Homo sapiens: one gene and its partners. The protein of the gene in region 3 purifies or fractionates together with the protein of the main gene of each other region. This does not show direct contact. Each region holds a gene or a part of one and is shown on either strand. Other genes may lie near its edges.

Region 1 (7,026 bases), on a different chromosome or scaffold from region 3:
GTTGTGTTCTGAAGAACTGCAACCACAGAGTTATTTGTTGGTACTGAGAGACTTCTGCTTTATTCTTTGTTTTTGCTATCCTGTCCTATATAACTTTTTTTAAAGTCATAAGCTTAAAGTTTTTTATTACGAAGAATTTTATATTTATGCAAAAGAAAATAGTATCTGTATGACCAATCATCCAGATTCAGCAACTAAGAGGATTTATAATAGATTTAAAGGTTCAATGTTTAATAAATATCTTAAAGTTCACTAGAGAAAAAATCCTTATTGCGAGATAACGTGGACCTATTGGGAAGCTTGGCAGATCTGTACTTCAGAGCTGGAGACAATAAAAACTCTGTCCTCAAGTTTGAACAGGCACAGATGTTGGATCCTTATCTGATAAAAGGTAAGTAATTCTTGGGGCAGGAAGACAGTGGCTGTTGTTGGGGGGGATCAGAGATAATAGGGAGAATATGCAGCATTAATACTCGATACCAAGTTTCATAGAAATGGTGTATAAAACTTATACTAGTCTTTTACTTTTTTTAGGTCATGACACATGTCTCTAACGCTTAGGTAATACCATTTGAGCAGCTGTTTTTGCTTGAATTCAAGTGTCTTCTCCCCACAGATCATTATTTGGCTTTTTTTCTTTTGAGGGGGTCATAGCTCCTCCTTATGACTTATAAATTTATGGTGTGCCTGACTGAGAATTTGGATGGCATCCCTAAAACCATAATATCCTTTTAGGGAATTTTGTTTTGCCATGTCCTTAGTATAATTAAAAAGGAATAAGAAAGGGATAAGGTGATTAAAGGCAGTAATTAGGCGTGAACAACAGAAAAATCACTGATCTTGAAAAAGATTGCAGGTGAAGGGTAATCTTCACAGGGACCTCCAACAGATGGCAGTTAGGACACTGGCAGTGAGTTCTCAGGAATAGTGGGAAATAAGGTCAGATAGATATGCTGTCTATTTGTAAAGGTCCAAAAAAGGCCATCAGAAAAACAGGGCCTTGTGACAATAAACAGTCTTATGAGCTCTTAAGCCAGGGGAATGATGGAGCTGGGAAGGGGCCATCCCAAGCGTTTAGATGAGGAAGCAGATCTAGAAGGATGGATTTGTTTGCACAAGATCTCCCCTCACCTCAAGTGCTTATTCCTCTTCTCCAAGCTGCCTGCACCCATGATGAAAATGATGTTTTAGAAATACTAGTCTGGCAACAGCTGGCAGCTTGGAATGGCAATGGCAGCTTGGAATCTCAGACCCAGGCCCAGGGGCTAGCAGGAGCATTGCAGTAATCTTGGCTTGAGAGGAATTTTCATGGGAATCTGAAGGGATAGCAAGGGATGGAAGAGAATGGTGGCAAGAGATGGGTAACAGTGAGCATAGGTCCCTTTTTATAGAATGTGGGTGAGAATAAAGCGGGGGCTGCGGAGAGGCAGTGATTTTTTATTTGTTTGTTTGAGACGGAGTTTCACTCTTGTCGCCCAGGCAGGAGTGCAGTGGCACAATCTCTGCTCACTGCAACCTCCGCCTCCTGGTTAAAGTGACTCTCCCACCTCAGCCTCCCGAGTAGCTGGGATTATAGGCGCCCGCCACCACACCCAACTAATTTTTGTATTTTTTTAGAAGAGACGGGGGTTTCACCATGTTAGCCAGGCTGGTCTGCAACTCCTGACCTTAGGTAATCCACCCGCCTCAGTCTCCCTAAGTGTTGGGATTACAGGCCTGAGCCACTGCACCCAGCCCGAGGCAGTGATCTTTAATGAACTGCATTCTGGATAGAACTACAAGCTTTTTTCTGGAATAGGCCAACTTTTTCTGAGACTGATTGGCTTTTCAGCAGTGTATTTCTGATGGTCTAGAACTCTGGGAAGAGAGACCTTAGTTGATGCCTTTTTTGGGCCTTTTCTGGTTGGGTTAGGGTAGCTGTGTATCACACCACAGGATAGAAGGACAAGCACTTCCTGAAAATAGCAGGCTTTCAAATTGTGAGGTAGGTTGTTCTGCTCCTTTGGTTTTTTGTTTTTTTTGTTTTTTTTTGTTTTTTTTTTGTGAGACAGAGTCTCACAGGCTGGAGTGCAGTGGTGCAATCTCGGCTCACTGCAACCTCCACCTCCTGGTTTAAGCAATTTTCTGCCTCAGCCTCTTGAGTAGCTGGGATTACAGGTGTGTGCCACCACGCCTGGCTAGTTTTTGTATTTTTAGTAGAGATGGGGTTTCACTATCTTGGCCAGGCTGGTCTTGAATTTCCACCTCGGCCTCCCAAAGTGCTGGGATTATAGGCATGAGTCACCGTGCCCGGCCTCCTTTGGTTTTGGTTTTGGTTTTGTTGTTAGAGACAGGGTCTCACTCTGTCACTCAGGCGGGAGTGGCACAAACATAGCTCACTGCAGCCTTGACCTCCTGGGCTCAAGCAATCCTCCTGCCTTAGCCCCCTGAGTAGCTGGGACCACAGGCATGTGCCACTGTGCTTGGCTAATTTTTTTTTCTTTCTATTTTATTTTACTTTATTTTATTTTATGTTTTAGACATAGTCTTACTCTGTTGCCCAGGCTGGAGTGCAGTGGTGCAATCTCGGCTCACTGCAACATCCGCCCTCTGAGTTCAAGCAATTCTCCTGCCTCAGCCTCCCGAGTAGCTGGTATTACAGGCGCCTGCCACTGTGCCTGGCTAATTTTTTGTATTTTTAGTAGAGACGGGGTTTCACCATCTTGGCCAGGCTGGTCTTGAACTCCTGACCTCGTGATCCACCTGCCTCAGCCTCCCAAAGTGCTGGGATTACAGGCATGAGCCACCGCGCCTGGCCCTTCTTTTTTCTTTTTTTTTTCTTTTTTTTTTTTTTTTTTTTTTTGAGACGGAGTCTCGCTCTGTAGCCAAGGCTAGAGTGCAGTGGCACGATCTTGGCTCACTGCAACCTCCGCCTCCCTGATTCAAGCGATTCTCCTGCCTCAGCCTCCTGAGTAGCTGGGATTACAGGCACACGCCACCATGCCCAGCTAATTTTTGTATTTTTAGTAGAGATGGGGTTTCACCTGTTAGCCTAGTCTCGAACTCCTGACCTCGTGATCTGCCCTCCTTGGCCTCCCAAAGTGCTGGGTTTACAGGCATGAACCACTGCACCTGGCCACTTGGCTGATATTTTAAAATTTCTTTAGAGACAGGGTCTCACCATATTGCCCAGGCTGGTCTTGAACTCCTGGGCCCAGGTGATCCTCCTGCCTCTGCCACCCAGAGTGCCAGGATTACAGGTGTGAGCCACCACGCCCAGCTGGGTTTTGCATTTTCTTTTTTTGAGACAGAGTCTCAGTCTGTCACCCAGGCAGTGCAGTGGCGTGATCTCGGCTCACTGCAACCTCTGTCTCCCTGGTTCAAGTGATCCTCCTGCCTCAGCCTCCCAAGTAGCTGGGATTACAGGCGCGTGCCACTATGCCCGGCTAATTTTTTGTATTTTCAGTAGAGATGAGGTTTCACCGTGTTAGCCAGGATGGTCTCGATCTCCTGACCTCGTGATCCACCTGCCTCGGCTTCTTAAAGTGCTGGAATTACAGGTGTGAGCCACTGTGCCCAACCTGGGTTTTGCATTTTAATAGTCACTTTGTAGGAAACTGGAAATAGTAGTTGGAGGAGCCTGTGATGGTGGAAAGGGCTTAGCCCCTGCAGGAGCTGGGGCCTCAGCATGGGGTCTGATGTTGGGTGCTACTCCTGTATGTGGGACCCCTGCTTCTCTTCTTAAAACACCTCTTCTCACTATGTCCTTCTCTTCTAGGAATGGATGTATATGGCTACCTACTGGCACGAGAAGGGCGGCTAGAGGATGTTGAGAACCTTGGATGCCGCCTTTTCAATATCTCTGATCAGCATGCAGAACCGTGGGTGGTTTCTGGGTATGATTATGCATTCTCTTTTCTCCCCAGTTGTCAGTAGATTAAGAGATAATGGTTGCTCTTGAAGAGAATATAAATTGAAAGCACAGGTTTAAGAGGTAATCACCTGGACAGGCATGGTGGCTCATGCCTGTAATCTCAACACTTTGGGAGACTGAGACAGGTGGATTGCTTGAACCCAGGAGGCAGAGGTTGCAGTGAGCCAAGATCGTGCCACTGCACTCCAGGTGGGCGGCAGAGTGAGATTTTGTCTCAAAAATAAATAAATAAAAATAAAAAGAGGTAATTACTTGAGGCCAGAAATTTGAGACCAGCATGGGCAATGTAGCAAGACCCTGTCTCTATAAATATATATATATATATATATATATATATATATATTTTTTTTTTTTTTTTTTTTTAAAAGGATAATCAGCCCTGGATTCAAATAATAGTTTATGACTCTGGATGCATTATTTACCTATCTAGGTCTGTATTCTCATTTGGAAAATGGGCTAATAACCTCTCCTTCTAGGGTTAAGCATTAACTGAGTTGGTGAATGCATTGTGCTTAGTACTGAGCCATCAGTGATGGGGCCAGAAGATGCTCCTTTGTTTATTAACCTGGCTTTACAAATTCTCTGAATGCCTCTCTGCTAATAACTAATATCCAGATCATAGGTTCTTTTTCATAATTTTTCTCTTCCATATCAAGATTTCCCCTTAAAAATAAATAGTGGATTTTTTGGTTTGTTTTGCTTTTCTACTAATATCTTAGGTTAAAACTATAAGTGTGGTTTGGAATAAGGATTATGTTCAGGGCCTTCAATATGATTTTTGGATCAACTTTCTTTGTAGTCTTCTCTTGGATAACTTCTGGGGTTTTTGTGTTTTTTTTTTTTTTTTTTTCTCCAGCTGTCACAGCTTCTATAGCAAACGCTACTCCCGGGCCCTCTATTTAGGAGCCAAGGCCATTCAGCTGAACAGTAATAGTGTTCAAGCTCTGCTACTTAAGGGAGCAGCACTTAGGAACATGGGCAGAGTCCAAGAAGCAATAATCCACTTTCGGGAGGCCATACGGCTCGCACCTTGTCGCTTAGATTGTTATGAAGGTAAGAAAGAAAACATAGGTGAATGGTGTGAATCCGTGGGTGTGGCAGCAGCCCTCAGATGGAAGGTTTCATTAGGCCAGCACTTCCCAAACTCTGTTAGAATAATCTGGGGAAGCTGGCCGGACGTGGTGGCTCACACCTGTAATCTCAGCACTTTGGGAGGCCGAGACGGGCAGATCATGAGGTCAAGAGATTGAGACCATCCTGGCCAACGTGGTGAAACCCCGTCTCTACTAAAAATACAAAAATTAGCTGGGCATGGTGGCTCACACCTGTAGTCCCAGCTACTTGGGAGGCTGAAGCAGGATAATCACTTGAACCTGGGAGGCGGAGGTTGCAGTGAGCCAAGATTGCGCCACTGCACTCCAGCCTGGCGACAGAGCAAGACTCCATCTATTAAAACAACAACAACAACAACAAAAAAACATCATCCGGGGAAGCTTTTCAATATCCTGACGTTGGGTCTCTCCAGTGTAGATGGAAATACATGGAATTGGGAATAGACATCGATATTTTTGGAGGTCCCCAGGGGTTACCAATGTGCAGACAGGTTTGGGAACCACTGCATTAGGCATTTTACATTTATTTAGGGCTTTCACTGGATTTGTCACCCCATACTTTCATAATCCATTTTTTCTGATTTTTTTTCTGGTTTTTGGTGAGGGTATAGTTGGGATGGGGTTTTTTTTTTTTGTCCTCCCACCGCTCGCCCCCATCCAGTGTGGCGTACTCATTAATATGAATCTCTCTGTGTCAGACACCATGCAAGATCACTTAGTTTGCCTATTTTTTTTCTCTTACTCCTCTTTTTTTTGAGACAGAGTCTCGCTTTGTTGCCCAGGCTGGAGTGCAGTGGCATGATCTCGGCTCACTGCAGGCTCCACCTCCCGGGTTAATGCCATTCTCCTGCCTCAGCCTCCCCAGTAGCTAGGATTACACCTGGCTAATTTTTTGTATTTTTAGTAGAGACAGTGTTTCACCGTGCTAGCCAGGATGGTCTCAATCTTCTGACCTCGTGATCCGCCCGCCTCGGCCTCCCAAAGTGCTAGGATTACAGGCGTGAGCCACCGTGCCCGGGTCCTGTTTTTTTTTTTTTTTTTTGAGACAGAGTCTCGCCCTGTCACCCAGGCTGGAGTGCAGTGGCATGATCTTGGCTCATTGCAACCTCCACCTTCCGGGTTCAAACCATTCTCCTGCCTCAGCCTCCCAAGTAGCTGGGATTATAGGCGCCCACCACCACACCCAGCTAATTTTTGTATTTTTTAGTGAGATGGAGTTTCACCATGTTGGCCAGGCTGGTCTCGAACTCCTGACCTCGTGAGCTGCCTGCCTTGGCCTCCCAAAGTTCTGGGATTACAGGCATGAGCCACCACAACCGGCCTATTTTTTTTATTTTTATTTGAGATAGAGTCTCACTCTGTCACCCAGGCTGGAGTGCAGTGGTGCAATCTCAGCTCACTGCAACCTCCACTTGCCGGGTTTAAGTGATTCTCCTGCTTCAGCCTCCTGAGTAGCTGGGATTACAGGCATACACCACCACACCCAGCTCATTTTTGTATTTTTAGTAGAGATGGGGTTTCGCCATGTTAGCCAGGCTGGTCCCGAACTCCTGGGCTTAAGTGATCTGCCCAATTCAGCCTCCTAAAGTGCTGGGATTACAGACGTGAACCACTGTACATGGCCTGTTAGGCCTATTCTTTTTCGTGGCCATCTTACCTTGGGCCAGAGTTAGTACTCGTGGGATAACTCCACATCCATATGATAGTGTTGGCTGTGGGAATGGGTCTGTTCATTGTGACCTCCAGAGTGGGCACAATCAGGGTCCAACTTTGTTTTGTTATGTAATATTTTAAGTTCATGTGAATTGACCCTGGGAGTTCAAAGGAGCTGTGCCAGTTTCAGCAACGTTTGGTGACTCAGTCACAGACATTAAAATAGATCTTACAAGATGCAGTTCCTCCAAAACATATTTTTATAAGCATTTAAAAATAAACCTAGGAGTCTAGGAGTGATTTGCTCTTAACAGGAAGATGAGTTCAAATTTGAGAAATAAAATTTGG
Region 2 (7,214 bases), on a different chromosome or scaffold from region 3:
CAAAGGGTCCTGGTCAGCTGCCACTGCCTTCACAATGTCCCTGTTGGTCTCTCCACTGGAGTAGTACATCTGTTGCCAGAGAAATAAAAATGTCAGTTTGTGTGTTGTTTTTATACTTCTTTTATGGTACTTAAATCATGCCTTGTATAAGAATGACTTTATATACTTGTTTAGCCCTGTACAGATTAGAAGCTCGTTGATGGCAGTGCCTGTGGACATCATTGTGTTTGCTTACTAGGCACATGCCTTTTCTACGGCGATAGAGATGACCAGCCGCATCACCTGTGACCTCAGTTAATGGGAAGCAGGCAGCCAGGCTAACACATTTCTTCACCATCTAGGTAGTAGGTGCTCATAAATACCAACTGAGTGAACGGAAATGCCATTTAATATACCGCTTTATGCCTCACACCTTAACTATACTATGGAAGAAGCAGATACACTTCGAGCTCTCTAGGTAGGACAGCTTCCACAAAATCTAAAGGAAAATCCAGTTTCACTTATTTGATGTGATTTTAGTTGGACCATGAGGACCTGGGCTGAAATTAAGGGTCAACTAAGAAGGTCATTGCAATAAAGTAAAGATAAGATCTCTGCTATTTGATTTCAGGCAATTTAGTATAAATGTTAACTCAGCAAGATGAGGCTATAATAGCACCAACATTGAGCAACAAGATCTCAGAGCCCTGAGAGGCTGAGTTTTATCCCAGTTGTCTTTGGTGGAACAGTTAGTTACAAGATCCCTGGTTTAACTGCTTCATACCACTGGATACTAGAAGAGGTGAAACAGCCGGTAATCTCTAAGATGGTAGGCCTGAATAGATGGGTCAGTTTCTTCATCTGCAAGTGTGGAGAGGAGGAGTGGGAGAACACTAGAGGAAGTCAGCCCAAATATTCCACATGCTTAAAGAAGACAGGCCAGGTGCGGTGGCTCACACCTGTAATCCCAGCACTTTGGGAGGCCAAGGGTTGGGGGGGGGTGTGAAGGGTGTGGATCACCTGAGGTCAGGAGTTCGAGACCAGCGTGGCCAACATGGTGAAACCCCGTTTCTACTAAAAATACAAAGCCGGGGATGGTGGCGGGTGCCTGTAATCCCAGTTAGTTACTCGGGGCAGGATAATCACTTGAACCCGGGAGGCAGAGGTTGCAGTGAGCCGAGATCACGCCATTGCACTCCAGCCTGGGCTACAAGAGTGAGACTGTCTCAAACAAACAAAAAAAAAACAGAGGAAAACAAAGGTTGCTGCCTGTTAACTTTACAGTTAATACATGAGCCAGGTAAATCAAGGAAAAATAAAAGCATCTCTAACCCTACCACCCAGAGATAATCACTATTATAACTTCCCTGTCTACTGTTCCAAAGATAGGTTCTTGCATAAATAGGCTTACAGACACATGCAAAAATTTCCCTCAAGAAAATGGAATTTTAAGTACATACTGTTTTATGACCCATGCTTTTTCATAAGTATACTGTGAACATCGATTTATGTCTGCATAATATTCTTCAGGATAGATATATTTTTTAAAAATCTATGATGGGACATCTAGGTTGTTTGCATTTTTTCACTTTCGTAAATAACCTTATAATGAACATGCTTAAGTAAATATTTATTTCTCCTGCCCTTGCCTCCTTAAAAAGCACTGATAGCCGATCCCTGAGCCTTCTTCCCTTTTTCTCTTTATTCTGCAGTATTTTCCTAAGGATGGGGGAGGCAAAAAACGGAGTAGGTAGAGCTAAAATCTTTATGGGGCAGTGGGAAAAAGAAAAGGCTGGAAACACGATGTGTTAATATTTCTTGTCTTACGGCTACTTTGGATCATTTCCAAGAACAATTCCTGCCCCTTACTGCCTACCAACACACATGAGGGTCTATAGCAAGCTTGTCTAACTCGCAGCCTGTGGCCCAGGAGGGCTTTGAATGCAGCCCAACACAAATTCATAAACTTTCTTAAAACATTGTGAGATTTTTTTTGTGATTTTTTTTTTTTAGCTCATCAGCTGTCATTACTGTTAATGTATTTAATGTGTAGCCCAAGACGATTCTAATGTGGGAAGACAAAAGATTGGACACCCCTGGTCTATAGCAGCATAAAACTCTGCTGTTTCCTGCCCACATCTGGAACTCCACACTTAGGCTGTTTCCTTTGCTGTAAGGCTTAGAAAATTTATATTCTGTGAAGACTTAATGTGCAGGTGGTTATACTCTGTCCTTTGCAGTACGGTGTTTATGCCTCTGGGAACAGTGATTTTCACGTGCTGTATGGGTGTTTGTATTCAGGTAAGTTCCAGGAAAATGGACATTCAATTTCCGTAAGAAGGTTAATGTGCATAGATACTAGACCCCCACCAGGTGATCCATTATAACTGCCCCAAAACACTAACACCTGAAAATGCATTTTGTGAAAAACAAAGGCAAATGCATTTTTACCTTAGAAATGTTGATTCTGGAAGAGTTGGGGGCACTTGGTAAGTTGTTTGTGGCAAAGGCAAGGGCTGCAAAGCCCGTGACAGGAAGCAGGGTAGGTATAAAGTCAAGGATTAAGAACAGTACTTGGCACAAAATAGTTACTTGATGCTGAATGAATTAGTCTCCCTCCGTCATCTACTTCCCAGGGGCTAGATCCAGACAGAGGTCAAGAAGATGGGGCCTGTTGAAAGTTAAAGGACCTGCCGTCTGTTTCTTCTTTGAACAAGTGAAAGGTAGTAAAAAGTAGATGGCTTTCTACCATAGGTTTTAAGTTTAAGAACCCTAGGATGGTACTGTCACATTCTCTTAGGGAGGTCATAGCTGTGGGAACTGTCAACAGGTTGACTCATTTAAATGTGTCCTACATAAAGCAACATCAGATGAGTTCTGATTTACAAGTCTGCCAGGCTGGCCTGTGAGCCTCTGGGCAGAGTTCCCGTCCCATGCATTGCTGTAGCCTCAGTTCCTCCACATAGTAAATGCCCAAGTACCTATAGAAGAAATCGTGTGTGAGCCCACACTCTTTTTTTATATTTTAGAGACGGAGTCTGGCTCTGTTGCCCAGGCTGGAGTGCAGTGGCACAATCTCGGCTCACTGCAAGCTCCGCCTCACTGCAAGCCCCGCCTCACTGCAAGCTCCGCCTCACTGCAAGCTCCGCCTCCCGGGTTCACGCCATTCTCCTGCCTCAGCCTCCCCAGTAGATGGGACTACAGGTGCCCGCCACCATGCCTGGCTACTTTTTTGTATTTTTTAGTAGAGACGGGGTTTCACCATGTTAGCCAGGATGGGCTCTATCTCCTGTCCTTGTGATCCGTCCGCCACGGCCTCCCAAAGTGCTGGGATTACAGGCGTGAGCCACCGCGCCCGGCCCTGAGCCCACACTCTTTATTCGTTATGACGGTGCTGCAACTACCAATAAGTTGTGAGGGTTAAATGGGATGAGATGTCACAGTATTATTTGCCTGTTAGGGAGGTTTTAGGGCACGCGCCTCTTCTCTCCAAATTGGAATCACCCAAAGAGTTTTAGTAAATACTGGGCCCATCCAGGGTTAATTTTCTTCTAATTGGTTTGGGGTGCTGCTTGGACAGGGGGACTTTTAAAATTCTATACTGACCCACCAGGACTGACATGAGAACTACTCGCTTAGTAACTGTTAGAGGAGGCGCCAGCTGATCAGGACCTAAAGTTCATATTCTTTTTCATCTCCCCGTTGTCGCTGAAGCCTACCCCATAAACCCCTACCGTCCCTTTGCCCACAGCAGAGAATTTCCGGGAAAACGGGAAAGGTATGCAAGCATGCCCACACACGTGCACACACGGGTTCCCAAAAGACCTGCGTGTGGCCGCAGGGGCCTGCCCCGCCCTTCTCGGGCCCTTTCAGGTCCCGGCGCCCAGCGATCCCACCAGCACCTGGGTCCGGCGCGCGGCTCCCTCCCTCTCCGCGCCCCTCGGGGCTCCCTGCCCCGCCCGCGTGCCCCACCCTTCCTAGCTCTGCCCCATCGCTGCTCCCTGCCCCGCCCACGGGCCCCATCCTACCCCCACCTCGATCCGCCCCTCGCTCCTCCCTGCCCCGCCCACCGCGCCCCGTCCCTGTCCGCCCCTTCTGGCTCTCAGCACCCCCAAGACCGGTGCGCGCCCCGCCCCTCCTCCTCCTCTCGCGAGGCAGTCCCGACGCCGGAAGTGCCTGGAGCGCGCGACAGCGGCGGGGCGGGGCGGCCTGGAGGCTGTGGCGCGCGGCCGGCAGAGGGAGGGGAGAGGCCACTGGGGCCGTGTTAGTCTGCCGGTGGGGACTCTTGCAGGTACAGGCGCGGTCGGGGCTCCTCGTGGAGAGCCGGGGGCTCCTGCCGGCCTCTGACTGGGGTGTCGTTGCAGGGCCGTCCCCATGTTGCGTTTTCCGACCTGTTTCCCATCCTTCCGGGTGGTGGGAGAGAAGCAGCTCCCGCAGGAGATTATTTTCCTGGTCTGGTCGCCCAAGCGGGATCTCATTGCTTTGGCCAACACAGCTGGCGAGGTGAGTGAGCCGGCGGGAGCCCGCCTGTGCTGGGTCTGCTCCCGGGGGGCCCAAGAACACCGAGCCCGAGCCTGTTCATTCGGGCCACAGGCGGCCGGAGCCTCAGTTTCCCCTTCTGCAGACATGGCTGGCCACCTGCTACCCCTTCCCTGCCTCCCAGGACGGCAGTAAACTTTAAGTATATATGCGAAAGGTGATGTCTGTGCTATTTTCGGTACTTTTATGGCTAAAGTAACAGTTTTCACACAGCTTAACACCGTCACGCAATCCTGCTTCCCCAAGTCTTCTTCACTCATTGGTTTATTAGTTAAATGAACTTTTTAAAAAAGCCCACTATGTGCTGCTCATGAGCTAGACATAATGGTAGATGCAGGGACCCTGCCCTAAGTTTGCTTACAGTTTTAATAGCAGTAGGAAGAGTTATTGTCAAACTTCAGCTGCAAATGTGCCTGCATGTAGCTGCCACACAGGATATATTTAAGAACCTGGCTTCTCTTGTCCACGTTTTATAGTACGGGTTGGATAACCACCCTCCACTAAAAATACCTCTAAATTGGACAAGGAAGGCATGCATTGGATTCCAGACAGAACGTGCATGGGTGTTATCAGCATTTCTTGTTCACATAAAACTTCATCGAGTATAAACCAGTTGTACCCAACTTTCTGCTGAGAGTTATTACCTGCCAGCCATTTTGTAAGGAAACCTTCACCTGTGCATCTTTCCGCCTCTGGCTTGAGAGTTATCTGGCCATGTGAGAGTTGTATAGAGCCAAATTTGGAAACTAGGTGATAAGGAAATCTTAGCACCCTGCAGACTGTAGTCTGCACCATGTTATCTACCATGATCCAGTCGCCAGGGTATTGATGTCTAATTTTTCAGGGCCCTCCATGAAATCTAGCTAGTCTCCCTCCGCTGCCGGGATGCTTTGAAACTCTGTTGTGGCTCTAGAGAGCAGCAGGTGGTACCGTCACAGAAGTAGGAGGGAAGGTAGACGGGAGGCACATCCGTGCAATCAGATGGGTAGGCGTGATAGAGGGCACTGTTACATCCATTTTCTCAGTGAAGGAAGAAGCAAGGGCATTGTTTATGGGTGAAGATGGAGAAGAATATATTGGAAGTTTGAGGAGAAAGAAGAGGTATGAAAAAGCTAACAAAGCAGGTGGACTTGGGAAACCTAATAGGATTGCCAGTCAGTGTTAAGACCCACATGAGATCGGTGTTATTATTTGAGAGACACTGGTTGAATAAGGTTGTATGTGTCTCTCTCCGTTCTGTTTGGCTGTGTGGGTGCAGGCATGGTTGGGTTTAACCAGGATTGTCGTTTTGCAAGTATGACAAAGCAAGGCAAAGATGAAAGAGAGTTGAAGTTACGTGCAAGAGGAGTGATTGTGTTTCTGAACTTTGGGTTCTAACCTGATGAAGGAGGGAAGTGAAGGCATGTGTGGGGAGAGGGACAGTGAACAGGTGGTAGAATCAATAGACTGTATCCTGGTGAGGTCAAAGAATTGGAGTTGAGTGTTGTAGAGATGACCTGGAAAGAGGGGTGGTGGATGGAAAGTGGGAAGTTTAAAATGGAGATTTTGGTGGCCCTGCAGTTGTTGGTAATGACCAGGCCGGAGGTGTGACCCTGGGAGTGGCTGAGTGCAGTAGAAGATGTGATCACTGGAGGAGAGGTAATTGAGAGCTGAAAAGCCAGGACATCATAGCTCTTGAAATCACCAAAAATGATGATGAGTGTGTTGTTAGAAGGCATGAGCAAGCCAGGTATCCAGATCTTTAAGGAATGAGGGGAATGGCCTAGGGGTCTGTAGAGGACTGCAATTAAGACGGATAGCGAGTGGTATGGTCTGATTGCATGTGATTCAAAGTTAGGAGATTTACAAGAAGAGAAGAAATGGCATCAAGCATCAAGGAAGACACCTACTTCATCTCCTAGCCCAAAAGCAGCAGTACAGGGGCTGTGGGATACAAAATGGCCACCACCTAGCAAGGCTGCAGGGAAGCATTGTCCTCAGGTGAGAGGCACATTTCAGAGAAAAGTACGAAGATATTAATTTCATGATGACACCTGACCATGAGCTGCAGAAAGCACAGAGGAAGGGTTTCAGAAGTAAGGTATGGCAGGAGTGGTTTCAGAAAAGAGAGGGTCAAATCCAGGGGATGTTGTAACCAGGAGTGAAGGGTGCTGTGAGCTGTGAGATAAGGCAGGGTCATGGTGGCTTAGCTGAGTGTGGAAATGGGGAGGGGTCTTGGAGGAGCATGTGCAGTGGTGAGGCCTTTTCTTCCTTACTGTCAATGGTTGTATAGAAGCTGCAACGGGGCAGTCATAGAGCTCTTGGGCAACATTTTGACCTTCCAAGGTGGGAATTTACTGATGTGGAAATGGAGATTTAGAATGGTTAAGTGATATGTCTAAGATCCATGGCTAGTGAGTGACACAGCTGAAACTAGGTGCCACGTGGACTAATTCCAAGCTTAGTATAATTTGACTGTATTACAGCTAGCTACCTTTTTAGTGGTGTTTGTGTTCTTTTATTTCTTTTTTGGTTGTCACCTTGGACAGCCGCCTTCTTTATAAAAGGTAAGTCTCCCGTTGACATAAAAGATTAGGTACAGGGTTAAATTAGACCTTGTTTCACCCATTTATTTTAAAATACCTTGTGTTCATTCAGACACTGTTGTCTTTTTCTATTCTTCTGATAGCTAAGTATATATGAGAGATGGTCATTTA
Region 3 (7,026 bases):
TGTAATCCCAGTACTTTGGGAGGCCGAGGCAGGTGGATCACGAGGTCAGAAGTTCCAGACCATCCTGGCTAACACGGTGAAACCCTGTCTCTACTAAAAAATTAGCTGGGTGTGGTGGCATGCACCTCTGTAGTTCCAGCTACTCGGGAGGCTGAGGCAGGAGAAGTGATTGAACCCGGGAGGCAGAGGTTGCAGTGAGCCGAGATCGCACCACTGTACTCCAGCCTGGGCGACAGAGACTCCGTCTCAAAAAAAAAAAGTAAAAAAATCAGTGAAACACTATAGGACCAGATTTTTTTTTTTTTCAGATTTAAAAAATCCAGGCTGGGCATGGTGGCTCACACCTGTAATCCCAGCACTTTGGAAGGCCGAGGTGGGTGGATCACCTGAGGTCAGGAGTTCGAGACCAGCCTGGCCAACATGGTGAAACCCCATCTCTACTAAAAATACAAAAATTATCCGGGCGTGGTGACAGGCACCTGTAATCCCAGCTACACAGGAGGCTAAGGAAGGAGAATCACTTGAATCTGGGAGGCAGAGGTTGCAGTGAGCCAAGATCGCGCCATTGCACTCCAGCCTGGGGGACAAGAGTGAGACTTCGTCTCAAAAAAAAAAGATAAATAAATAAATAAAAAATCTGTTTTACTTGTAAAACATACAAACAACCTAAATCTTTTTTTAAAAAAGTGAATTAATGCCCAGTAAACTATCAGTAAACAATACTTTGAATATTTTCTTTTTTTTAAAATCCTGAAAGTGTAATATTAGAATTTCAGTACTGTTAGGTTTAGTATTATCAACTGAAATTTAAAGAAACTTTAGTGTGTTTGTTTAAAATCTAAATTATACTATAATTAATGAAATGAGGTTAATATTACTGAAGTTGTCCAACCTATTTGATAATTCTTTTTACAGGATCTAGGGTGGTGATGGTGGTGGTGGTGTGTTTTTTGTTTTTTGTTTTCCAGGGCAGAGGTTGTGGGGAAGGAACTTTTTATTTTAAATAGGACTATAGAATGAATTAACTCAGACTATAGAATGAATTAACTCAAACTATAGAATGAATTAACTCAGGCACATGAGGGTTTATTGAGCATAAAACACTTTCATTTGTGGATGAAAATCAACCTGTTAATTCAGTTAGTCAGTGTTTGTGCATTCTGGGTCCCAAAGCCAAATGTATACTTCTCATCTAACTGCAACACTGTTAATTCTGGAGATGGATTGATATGAAGTTCTTTTGTATAAGACTGAAACCCAAATTCAAATTTATTGAGTTTCAGTAGCTGGAAGAAAATGCTTGCTGATTAGGAAAGGAGCTGTTGAGTAAGAACATGCATTTGCGTATTTTGGATAGCATTAATTTAAAACAATTTACATTACTGTGGATGCCCTTAATAATATGTTTAGGTGTAAAGGAAATGAGTCAGTGCCTTTGAGCTTGGTTTCTATGAAGATACGAAATTTGAAAAAATGTCAGACATCTATTTTAGACAGATTTTACACTATTTAAAAAATGTAGCATTTTTTTTGTCGTGATTTGAAGGGATCTCATTACATTCTTAACAAAGCAAGCTGTTAGACAAATCTGGAGTTTGATTATTTTTATTGATTTCTTTGTTATTTTTCTTAAATACAAATTGGAGATCCTTTGTTCAATGTTTTTATACAAAGAAAAGGAATTATTCTGCCAAAATTTCAATTTAGCTCAATTAGATCAAGTGTTTAGATTCTATAACATGAGGCATTCTGTACATACATAGATAAAAAGCTTCATAATTTTAACTCAGTTTTTACATAGCAGAACAACTGCCAAATGGGGGAATTTATCTTACAAAGGGAATTGCAGTTTTCTTACTGTAATTATTCTGTAAATACTTTTTCGTTGAGATTAGTTTCAGACTTTTGGTGAACATGTCTTGATTCCAAGGATCATTAACTTTGATATGGGTGAAATGATTATGGGGAAAACTAAAAAATTTTTTCAATGATTTTCAGTAGCACTTGGCTTAAAAAACAGTTATAAGTTTGGAGTAGAGAAAGGAAATTTACGTATTTTGCAGATTTGGAAACAGAAGCTTGAAGATCTTAAATATCTTGTCCGGAGTCATTCCTGGAACTAAGATATAAGATTCTGGATCTAAATTCCTACCTTCTCCTACATTCTCTTTTTTTATGTCAGCATACTTTTGCCCCTCAAACTGGTTGTTGTTAGAAAGAATAAGACCTAATATTTGATAGCACAACAGGGGGACTATAGTTAATAATAATTTTTTTTTTTTTTTTTTTTGAGACAGAGTCTTGCTCATGTTGCCCAGGCTAGAGTGCAATAGTGCACTCTTGGCTCACTGCAACCTCTGCCTTCCAGGTTCAAGCGATTCTCCTGCCTCAGCCACCCAAGTAGCTGGGATTACAGGCATGTGCCATGACGCCTGGCTAATTTTGTATTTTTTTTAGTAGGGACGGGGTTTCACCATGTTGGTCAGGCTGGTCTCAAACTCCTGACCTCAAGTGATCCACCTGCTTCGGCCTCCCAAAGTGCTGGGATTACAGGTGTGAGCCACTGCGCCCAGTCCTATAGTCAATAATAATTTAATTGTACATTTAAAAATAACTAAAAGAGTATAGATTGTTTGTAACAAAAAGGAAGAATGCTTGAGGGGTTGAATACCCAATTTTCCATGATGTGATTGTTACGCATTGCATGTCTATATTAGTGTACCCCATAAACATGTACACCTACTATCTACCCACAACAATTTAAGAATTTAAGAAAAATCTGGTTGCTATAAACTATTCTTTATTCTTTGTCAGTGGTAGTTGATATCTTCTCCTCTCATGTTAGAATCCTGAGTTATTTTCACTTCTTCCCACTTTATCACCAGTCATCAGTTTGGGCCTTTGTCTGTTTTTCTTGCCTTGGAAACTCTGGCAGATCTACCTTTTTCCATTTCCGTTCTCACTATTCCACTTGGTCCTTCATAATCTTTTACCAGGATTACTTTAATGACTTCCTACCCACTCACCCTTTTCAAATTTGTTCTATACCGTAAAAAGCTGTCAAACTAACATTTTAGGAAATGCTACCTTTTTTTCCACATACTTCCCCTTGCTCTGACCCTATTACAGTTTTCTATTGGTCACTCACATCAGTGCATATTTAATACATATTTATTTTTTATGGTATTGGTATGGTATAGTCTTCATGGTTTTGTTAAGCAGTAGAAGAATATGAGTATCAGGCCGGGTGTGGTGGCTCACTTCTGTTATCCTAGCACTTTGAGAGGCTGAGGTGGGCGGATCACGAGGTGAGGAGTTCAAGACCAACCTGGCCAATATAGTAAAACCCCATCTCTACTAAAAATACAAAAATTAGCTGGGCATGGTAGCGTGTGCCTGTAGTCCCAGCTACTTGGGAGGCTGAGGCAGAAGAATCACTTGAACTCAGGAGGTGGAGGTTGCAGTGAGCCTAGATCATGCCACTGCACTCCAGCCTGGGTGACAGAGTGAGACTCCGTCTCAAAAAAAAAAAAAAAAGAATGTGAATATCTATGTGATATGATACTCATCTCAGATAATTTGTTGTAAGGAGTTGAGGTTTAAATAAATACATGATTCCTCCTTCAAGTAATTTATCATTCATTTGAGGAGACCACATAGACACTGAGAAATTTAACAATAGAAAAATAGTAATAATATATATTTTTCTTTTTTTCCTACAGGTTCCTGTTGCATGTAAATCATGTCCTTGTGGTTACATATTTATTAGCAGAAAACTTTTAAATGCAAAACACTCAGAGAAATCACCACCTTCTACAGGTAACTGTGAGTTTAATACATTTTTAGCTTTTTGATGTAGAAATGTAAAGTTAATTTTTGTGAAGTTTCTATTTACATTTTTTGTTGAAGTTAAAAGTTTAAATCTATTCAAGTGTTTTTGGCTTTTATTAACTATTGGAATTAGTTTACGACGTTGGTTTCATGTGCATTCCATTTAAATGTTAAGTCCCTTACAATGCTGATAACGCTTGTAACAAATTTTTTATTTTTGAAGGTGGAGAACCATTGAAAGGTTTTAGCAAGGGAGTGACCTGATCTGATATAAAAACTTTTTAAAAAAATAGCTTTAGTAATAATTGACATTGAGTAAATTGGATGTATTTGAAGTGCACAGTTTGATAAGTTTTGACATATGTATATACCAATCAATCACCACAATCAATATTATGAACATTCATCAATTTCAAAAGTGTTCTAGTTCCCTTTGTAATCCCTCCTTCCTGCTACCTCCACCCCAGGTAACCACAGATCTGCTTTCTGTTACTGTTCGTATTTATGGAATCATATAGTATGTACTCTTTTTTGCCTGGCTTCTTTCACTGAGTGTAATTATTTAGGATTCAGCCATGTTGTATGTACCAATAAGAGTTCATTCCTTTTTATTGCTTAGTAGGAGTCTTTGTATGGAGATTTGTTTATCCATTCTCCTGTTGATGGACATTTGAATTTTTTCTCTCATAATGGTGGTAAAATTTGCAGCAACTTTTAAGTTTTGTTTTTTTTTTAAACTAGTGACCGTTGAAAAATATAGCTTGGTTTTGGTATGAAAAACGTTTTTAGACATGTTGACTATGTTTTACAGTTCCCTGACTGAGGATATCCAAATAATGATTTTGTTTGAACTTGTTGCTTTTCCATTAACGTAGACAAATTGGATTTATTCAATAGACATATTTATTAATATTAAAAGATACAATTTTGTTACTTATTCTTGGCTAAAAGCAGACCTTCATATGGTGGTGACCTCGAAATAAGAGTAGGTTCATTACAAATATATACTGAGCACCTGCTATATGCTAGACACTATTCCAAGCCTTGGGCACAAAGCACTGAATTCTACTGTTAAGGCAGATTTACTGGTGTCATGGAGCTTATATTCTTGTGGGTGGGAGATAGACAGTGAACAAATATACAGAGAAAATGTAACCTTGTGATAAATGCTTTATAGTCCTATGAAGTGACTGGAAGGCTACTTTTGATTGGGTGGTTAGAGAAGGCCCCTATGAGGAGGTGACATTTAAATGGAGTCTCAGTGGATAGAAGGGGCTAGCCATGATAAGATCAGGGAAAAGAACATTCTTGACAGATGGAAATAGCAAGTGCAAAAGTTCTAAGGTTGGAAAACATTTTTTATATTTTAGGAACAAAAAAGACCATTGCGATTGCAGTGTAGACAGTATGATTAGAAGAGTGGAAGATGAGTTCACAGGGCTAGGCAGAGGCTAGATTGTATAGGGCTTTGTAAACCAGAGTAAGAAGTTTGGATTTTGTTTGTAAACTGTGAGGAGAAACTGTCCCTGAGATGGGGTGGGATGAAGAGAGGAGAAGATGGCATCCTCTGATTTGAGTTTTAGAAAGATCATTCTAGCTGCTGTGTAGAGAATAGTTTGTAGGGGTACAAATATGGAAGTGGATTATTGCAGTAGGCTAACTAAGAATACTGAGTTAGACAAAGACTGATGATAGTAGCAGATGATTCAATAATAATTTTTATTTATGTCTGAGAGGTTTATTTATCTTAGGTCTATATAGAAGTGGCAGGAAACTTGTTTAGTTCCATTTCTGTCACTGTTTCAGTTCTCTTCTCATCATGAGAATGAACATAATTCACTGGTTCTTAAAGGCGGTTGCTGGGTTGGCTGTATAGGATTCATGCAGAGAACTTGTTAAAAATGCATTTCTGGATCTTACTCTCTGAGAGTTTGGTTTAGATAAAGGAACCCTGAAATGATGATTCACTCGGTAGCTATTTTGGGGTGGCGTGTCAGCTCAGTGCTGAGTTTCTAAAAATGAATAAGACATGGTCCTTGTTCTTAGGGAGACAAAGTGCTTATTTTTTTAATTCAAGTATTTTTGAGCTCCTTTTATGTACCAGTGATTCAGATGAGAAATGAGTTAAGAAAGTCAACAAAGATAAAAGAAGGAACAGGGCCAGGCATGATGGCTTATGCCCATAATTCCAGCATTTTGGGAGGCCGAGGCAGGAGGATCGCATCAGCCTGGGAAGTTGAGGCTGCAGTGAGCTGTGATTGTACCACTGTATTCTAGCCTGGGTGACAGAGTGAGACCTTGTCTAAAATAAAATGAAAAAAAGGAGGAACAGATGATACAAGTGTTAATGAGTTGTTAAGTTTAACCAGTTAAACCAGAGGGAAGAATTTAGAAGATTCCCAGATCTCTGACTTGGATTGCTAGTTAAAAGAGAATATAAGAGGGAAAACAAGCTGTGGGGGAAAGATGAAGAATTTAATTTTGGGTATAGAAACATCATCCGTGTAGATTTTTTTTTCAGTTGGACATATAGTCTGCAGCCTCAGCTGCAGGTAAAACTTTTGAGCCATCAGTGACTAGATGGTAGTTGTCATCATGGAAAATGGATGAGCTCGCGGTGCAGAGTTTGTAAGTTAGGAAGAGGAAGGCATTCAGGGACTAAACTGTGACAGACACCAATTTTACAGACAGGTCAGATCAACTAAGAAGAAATGTCAGCTGTAGGAGAAAAACCAACAGCACAATGTTATGTAAGTCATGGCGATGAGTTTTAAGAAGCAATTCATTATTATTTTGTATTTGGAGTTTCCTGAGATTTCCTTGTTTAGTAAGAGTGGTCTTTTGACTTTGAAGTGAAGATGAAACATTGAAGCCCAGAAATCCCTGCAGGAGGAGGAAGAACCAGCAACAAAACCAAACCAGAAAGGAAGGAGAAACATCAAGGATAGGCTGTGCCATAGAAACCACAGGAGGAAAAGATTTTAGGGAGAGGATTAAGAGTATTCAAAGCCTCAAAAACAGTTTGGTAGAGTACAGACGTGGGGGTCAGAAAACCTGGCTTCAGATTCAGATTCTGTCCCTTTCTAAGCAGCCTAGTTAACCTCCATGAGCAACTGTTGTTTGTTTATAAGATAGATTTATAGTACCAGTGTTAGAGGATTGAAGTACATATGAAAATGTCTAACATTTGCAAAG
Region 4 (7,026 bases), on a different chromosome or scaffold from region 3:
TTAAGTTTCATTTTGTTGCCTTTTAGCCCCCCAGAAGTTGCAAGTAGAACAAGAGGAAAACAGGTGACTTTTATTTAGACTGTGCTTTTATGTCAAACACTTAAAACAATATTATTTACTGTTCTGCTTAATAACTTTATGTTTTATTCTCTTATAGGTTTAGTTTCAGGCATTCTACATCTGTTTCTAGTCTAGCTGAAAGATTGGTTGTCTGGATGACTAATGTAGGTGAGAGCTTCTTTGTTACCTCCTAACTAGGCCGTGCTTCCTCCAGACTAGCTAGAAGTGGAAGGCATGAGGAGAGAGGGGCTCTGGCTTTGTGAAAAGGCCTCACAAGATTGAGATTATGGTTCATCAAGCCATATTCTTTTTTTCTCGACAATCTCACAACTTTCATATAATAATATTTGGGATACCAGCTTTTTATCTTGATGCATAAGGAATCTTTATTTGCCATTTAATTGGAACATTTGAGGCTGTGGCTATGTAAGCTGGTCTCTGAGAATGGAGAACTCTAATCACCTACATACACACCTGAAATCATTGTGATACTCAGATATCAGAAATGGGTGGTTTTGGCAAAGTCTAAAAGCAATAATATAAACATTTCAGGGTATACTTTTGAAGGATAAATGCACTTTTGAAGGGATTTCAGGCACCAAGATGAACATTGAACTGGGAAGAGGAAGAGGAAGGAAAAGAGTTCTATATTCCCTATTCCCCAAACCTATGCTCCTAGGTTTTAAATTAAGTAAAATACCAAAGAAATTTTTTTTCACAAAGAACTGAAAAACAAAAATTACTGCCACGAAGACATGATTTTAAAAATGAGGATGTTATATGGGATGTATGTTAAAAAGTAAAGTTTTAATGAATATTAAAAGATGTTTTTGAAGTCTTATCTAAAGTATGTTCTAAATGAAGTTTCTGACAGGTTTTTTTTTTTTTTTTTTGCATTTTACCTTAAAAATGACAATAACTGTTGCATAGTATACATACAGGATACCTATGCTGAAAAATATTGGATTAGTTCTATCCATTTGTATATTGCATAATATTTAATAAGTGTTATTCTCATATAAGGAAACATTTTTTGCCTCAATAGTTAATCGACTTTTTATATTATAAATAATGCATAGTATTATGAAATTTAGAAAATCATAAGAAAAACATGATTTAATTAACCTGAGGATAAATTTAAATATGAAATATGGTATACTTACAAAATAATATGTCAAACGTATATGTTTAGTTTAGAGAATGGTACTAAAGTGAGTATTGATGTACTGGTCACCCACCCCTAGAAATAGAATATTACCCGCATAGTAGAAGGCCCTTACATATCTGTTCTTGGATGGTCCCCTCCTGTCACACACCCCAATGTTATAGTGAACCACTGCCCTACCTACATTTGTGTTACCTTACTCTTGTTTTTCTTTATAGTTTTACATCTTTATAAATTGCTAGGTCTTATGTAGTTTTGAAAATATATAGATGTAAATATGTGTTCCTTTTTCTTCACTCAACTTTGTTTTTTAAAGATTCATCCATGTCGACTCATGTAGCAGTAGCAGCGGGCCATTCATTTTCTCTGATATAGAGATTACTTTGTTTGAACATATCATAATTTAATTACCCATTCTATTGATGATAGACAATCGGACTCACCCCTTTCTCCATCTCTTTTTTTTTTTCCATAACAAACCAGTATTGCTAATGAATATTTTTATACCTGTGTCTTTGTACATGGGTATAAGTTTCTATATGGCTGTTGATGGATCAAATGGGTGGATTGACCTATACATACCAACTGTTTTCCAAAGTGGTTGTACCAGTTTACACTACCATTGGCTATGGATAAGCATTATTGTTGCTTGGGCCAGGCGCGGTGGCTCATGCCTGTAATGCCAGCACTTTGGGAGGCCGAGGCGGGTGGATCACGAGGTCAGGAGATCGAGACCATCCTGGCTAATACGGTGAAACCCTGTCTCTACTAAAAAAAAAATTACAAAAAAAATTAGCCGGGCATGGTGGCGGGCGCCTGTAGTCCCAGCTACTCGGGAGGCTGAGGCAGGAGAATGGCGTGAACCCGGGAGGAGGAGCTTGCAGTGAGCCAAGATCGCGCCACTGCACTCCATCCTGGGCGACAGAGCGAGACTCCATCTCAAAAAAAAAAAAAAAAAAAAAAAAAAAGAATAAAAAGAATTATTATTGCTCTACATAGTTGCCAACATTTAGTATTGATTGGCTTTGACATTTATATTTCTCAGTAGCTTTAATTTGCATTTTCCTGATCCCTAATTAGGTAGAGCATCTTTTCATATGCATGTTGCCCATTTATGTTTCCCCTTCTAGGAAATGTCTTTTTGTCCTTTATATTTTTCTATTAGATTGTCTTTTTTTCTTCAGGTTTTTACAAGTTCTTTCAAAGAGACTTCCTATACTAGTCCTTGATGTCAAGACATTAGTCTGGTAGTAAGATGAATAAAATGAACTTATTTGTCAGGATAGATATTGTTGCCAACTTCAGTCAGGATAATTGGGACAGTGGCGAGTCTAAATTAAAATTTTTCTCTCTTCCTTTAACCATTAGGATTCACTTTAAGAGATTTGGAAACTCTTCCCTTTGGAATTGCTCTTCCCATCAGAGATGCAATTTATCACTGTCGTGAGCAGCCTGCCTCAGACTGGCCAGAAGCTGTCTGTCTCTTGATTGGACGTCAGGATCTTTCCAAGCAGGCCTGCGAAGGAAACTTACCCAAAGGGAAGTCTGTGAGTATCAACATAGAAAGTTCAGAGTTCCAATTTTAGCCTTAAATAAAATCATAAAGTAGAAATGTTCTTCATTTTCCTTTAAGGCTTTTTCTAAGTATATATATTAGCTTGTCTTTTATATTATATGCCAGACGGGGTTTGTAATTGTACGCGTCTTATTAATTGTTAAGATGAGCATTAGGAGCAGGAGATTTTGTGAATGTTCTGTCTTGTGCCTGGATCTTTCTTTGCCTTGAATCAGGACAAGTCCTGAGGGTAGTCATGGAAACTACCATGGCTATTTCCCTACTTGTACCATATTAGTAATTAACCACTTTGTAATTATTACATAGGAAAAGGGAGAGCACATATATCCTGAATTTGGATGAGTAATTATATATAAATATTTTCTACTGCATATTTTTTGATGTGTTGAATTTTTTGAATTTAACCTTTTAAATAGGTGTAAACATATTTGTTTAATCACATAAAACTGCAGCCCCAGGGAAAAAATGTGTTTTTTTCAGTAGAGTTGTTTAAAAACATGTCTTAAGCTATCCCTCCCGAAATACTGTCTTTCATCAATCATCAAGTCTGTTTTTTTTTTCAAATGAGTTCTAGGAATCCTGCAAGTAGAAAGTTAAATTATTTCATTACTCTCCAATTATCTTTTTAAATCATCCTCACCATGTTGGCCAGGCTGGTCTGGAACCCCTGGCCTCGGGTGATCCGCCCACCTCGGCCTCCCAAAGTGCTGGGATTACAGAGTGTGAGCCACCACACCCGGCCAGCAATATAGTACTTTTTAGAAAGATTTGTAGATTAGAGTCCCAGTATACATTGCGGCTCCAACCCATGCCTGCTTTGGAAAACATATTTTCTCTGTGCTAGTATAGTCAAGACACATCAGCCTATATATCCTCATGTTCAGCAAGTGCATGTTAACTGCTTTTGAAATTATTATTACAATAAAGTCTGTTACTCAGGTGCTCTCATCAGATGTTCCTTCAGGAACAGAAACTGAGGAGGAAGATGACGGCATGAATGACATGAATCACGAGGTCATGTCATTAATATGGAGTGAAGATTTAAGGGTGCAGGATGTGCGAAGGCTTCTTCAGAGTGCGCATCCTGTCCGTGTCAACGTAGTGCAGTACCCAGAGCTCAGTGACCACGAGTTCATCGAGGAAAAGGAAAACAGGTGAAAGAAAACACGTGCACTATCTCTTGTCATGTTTCATTGTTACATTTGTGTCTTGTGTATATTTGTTTTTCCTTCAAGTTTTTAGCATTTAAAACCCTAAAGAGATTTAAAAGATACTTTCAAGTGAAAATATGCCCTGTGTTTTAAGTTTTCATCCAACTTCAACAAACCACGTGTGTTAGCAAAATGTCTTTGGCTTTTGAGGACGTAATTGTTGTATTTCATATCGTCCTCCTCTTGAAATACATATAACACTTTACTCTTTAGAAAAGGTGAATGTAAAACTATTTTGCCTGATAGTTACCTTAAGAATTTACAAACAAAGAAAACACTGGACTTGTTTTTCTGTGTCTTGATCAGGAATAGATTTTGAGGTTAGTGGGGTTTTTAGTGTAGTTTAAACTTGTATGAGTATTTTTTTTTTTTGGATATGATAGATGATACTCCAAATAAAAATAGATAAGCCTTTCTTCTGCCACTCCCCTGCACAGGATACATCCCTTGATACATTATAAGACTCACATGCCTATGACATTCCAGAGCTATTCTCTTGGGACACTTCTGTTTTAAAATTCTCTCCTGTTCTTTTATCTGCTTGTCTCTATCATCTATCATTCATCTGCCACTGTTTTCTAGTTCTCTTTACTTTTTTTATGGTACTGTTTTGAGGGGAACCATCACCCACACTTAGCCACAGGCTGCTGAAGATCTGAATTAGTTGTGATTTCCCTATTAACTGTTTCCTCTCCACATGTACCCAGTTATTAGTCACCTGTGAATAAAAAGATGGAGTGACAGAAGTTGAGTTTAGAGCATAGGATTTATGAGCATGGCCTCTAGAGCCAGGCATGGCCATGCTGTGCTGGGTGACTTTGGTTAAATTACTTTACCTCTTGTTGCCTCAGTTGCTTCATTTGTAAAAGTAGGCATACTTCATGGGATGGTGCTGTGTATCAAGTGAATTATTTTTACATAGCACTTAGAATACTGCTCAATACATAGTAAAGCTCAGTGCAGTCAGCCATTATTAGTAGTAGAGTTCATTGATTCTAAGATGCAAGTTTTTTCACTTTTTAATATCTCTGAAATCAGTTGTGTATTTCAGTGAACAGGTGTCATAGTTTAATTGGCAGTGCTTTTTCTTTCTTAGTTTCTCATGAAATAATGATACATCTTATCAGTGGCATCTTATATTCAGGGGATATAATATTGTTCTCATTATAATTTTGTTACTTGCGCAAAGTTGAAGTGAATTATGTGTAAGATTTCCTCTAAAAAAATTCTATGGGTTGCAACAGCCTCTTGGCTTTGAATTTTCCTGATCCCAAATTAATGTTGCGGTTGTGTTCCCAGAGAATCTTTAAGACAGCAAAATTTTTCTTTCCAGTTAGCTAGAAAAGCAGTTATGTGTGTCCAGTTAAGGAGGGAGTATGCTTATGAATAGCTTTGTCTGCAGAGAAAATGTTTGTCAGTTGTCAGCCTCTGAAGGGATATTTCTGTGTCTTCAGATATAGCTTGTATAGGCGTTTCTTAGTTATAAATGCCCTACTTCCAAAATTTCTGTTAGTTTTTTTTAAGTGGCTATATGGAATGTTAAGCTATTTTAACATAGGAAGAAGTTGAAGAGTGGTGTATTAATTTCACAGTAGAGCCAACAGAAACCATTTTAACCTTGAACATACCTGATACATAATGGTATTAGTCCTATAAATCTAGCCATCATGTAAGTGAAACCAATCTGTATTTCCCTTGGAGACACCATGAAATCCATTCACCTCTAACACAAGGACCTTGTTTCTTTTCTTGTGTACAGGCCACAGAAATGGTACTTCTGAGGCTGTATTGGCAAAAGGGATGGGAGGAGGATCCCACATGTACTGAGGACAGCTAGACTGAAATTAACACAGTGATAAAAACCCCAAAAGTACTGTATTTTCCTTTGAGAAGGTTAGCATCCATCGGAGTGGAATTTTAAATTTCTTTTTTTTTTTGAATGCCTAGAGAGAGTCGGCTGGGTTTATAGGCCAGGTGGTTTTCATTCAATGTAAATATGAAACAAAACAGAGGAAATATGTCTCTCCCTAAGAGTGTAATAGGAACAAGAATATTAAAATGAAAATAATCATGTTTGGGTAGTTCACTCACATCTGTGTATGAATTTACTTTGAGACAACTTCATCTTATACAGTACACCTTCTTTTGAAATACTTACAGATGATATTTCAATTGCTCTTTGCTTTAAACATTTTCATATGTTGGTTTTTACTTTAATTACAGATTGCTCCAATTGTGTCAGCGAACTATGGCTCTTCCTGTAGGACGAGGAATGTTTACCTTGTTTTCGTACCATCCTGTTCCAACAGAGCCATTGCCTATTCCTAAATTGAATCTGACTGGTATGTTAAATTCTGGGCTCAATGAGAAAGGAAAATGATTAAGTACATGCATTAAGTGTAGTTCTTTAAATTAGTTAAAACAAAAGAAATGCTCCCTCTATCCCCAGTGATTTAAAATTTTCCTAATAGCTGCTGTAGTGGTTATCAAAGCTCAAATGCCATGTGAAACTAAACTTTGAGAGAAGCAGAATATAGTTCATTACTCATTTTTGCTTTTTAATGAGGTGATTTTAAGATCTAAAAAGTCACTTGGAGAAGTTCAGAAAGATATTATTGATAACGATGAGACTTGAATTTTAAATAATCTTAAGTTTAATATGTAAAAATATTTAGTTTTAAAATGTCTTACGTCATAGTTTAAACAGATGATCATTGTATAAATCAAGAAATGTACTAAGCAAAAAGAGAAACAATGGTCGCTTGCAGTACTCCCACTCTTCTGCATCACTCCTTTTAACATTTTAGTATATATGTTTACTAAGTTTATTTCCACATATTTATAATTTTATATTTGTTTAATTATCAGAAAATTTATATCTATTTTAGATTTTTTTAAAAATTTACAGTGAACATCCTTTTATATCTAGCAAATAAATGTATGTGTTTATAATTATGTGTATGTATTGTATACACGTGTTTTTAATCAATACATTCATTTTTATTTGCTTCAGA

The links.
Region 1: the proteins of C16orf87 (region 3) and ANAPC7 purify together in Homo sapiens (affinity purification with mass spectrometry; 3 studies listed by BioGRID and IntAct, with this or other methods). This does not show direct contact.
Region 2: the proteins of C16orf87 (region 3) and ANAPC4 purify together in Homo sapiens (co-immunoprecipitation; 3 studies listed by BioGRID and IntAct, with this or other methods). This does not show direct contact.
Region 4: the proteins of C16orf87 (region 3) and ANAPC1 purify together in Homo sapiens (co-immunoprecipitation; 3 studies listed by BioGRID and IntAct, with this or other methods). This does not show direct contact.

What each region holds. Positions count from the first base shown.
Region 1 is NC_000012.12:110,379,692-110,386,717, reverse strand, and holds part of ANAPC7 (anaphase-promoting complex subunit 7), read left to right. Parts: intron 1-248; coding exon 249-391; intron 392-3,757; coding exon 3,758-3,875; intron 3,876-4,769; coding exon 4,770-4,966; intron 4,967-7,026. UniProt on the Homo sapiens protein: Component of the anaphase promoting complex/cyclosome (APC/C), a cell cycle-regulated E3 ubiquitin ligase that controls progression through mitosis and the G1 phase of the cell cycle.
Region 2 is NC_000004.12:25,373,075-25,380,288, forward strand, and holds the start of ANAPC4 (anaphase-promoting complex subunit 4), read left to right. Parts: upstream 1-4,188; 5' UTR 4,189-4,270; intron 4,271-4,343; 5' UTR 4,344-4,353; coding exon 4,354-4,482; intron 4,483-7,214. UniProt on the Homo sapiens protein: Component of the anaphase promoting complex/cyclosome (APC/C), a cell cycle-regulated E3 ubiquitin ligase that controls progression through mitosis and the G1 phase of the cell cycle.
Region 3 is NC_000016.10:46,821,179-46,828,204, reverse strand, and holds part of C16orf87 (UPF0547 protein C16orf87), read left to right. Parts: intron 1-3,722; coding exon 3,723-3,819; exon of another isoform or gene 3,820-3,825; intron 3,826-7,026.
Region 4 is NC_000002.12:111,818,168-111,825,193, reverse strand, and holds part of ANAPC1 (anaphase-promoting complex subunit 1), read left to right. Parts: intron 1-26; coding exon 27-63; intron 64-157; coding exon 158-228; intron 229-2,593; coding exon 2,594-2,772; intron 2,773-3,728; coding exon of another isoform or gene 3,729-3,740; coding exon 3,741-3,955; intron 3,956-5,771; coding exon of another isoform or gene 5,772-5,793; exon of another isoform or gene 5,794-5,905; intron 5,906-6,235; coding exon 6,236-6,354; intron 6,355-7,026. UniProt on the Homo sapiens protein: Component of the anaphase promoting complex/cyclosome (APC/C), a cell cycle-regulated E3 ubiquitin ligase that controls progression through mitosis and the G1 phase of the cell cycle.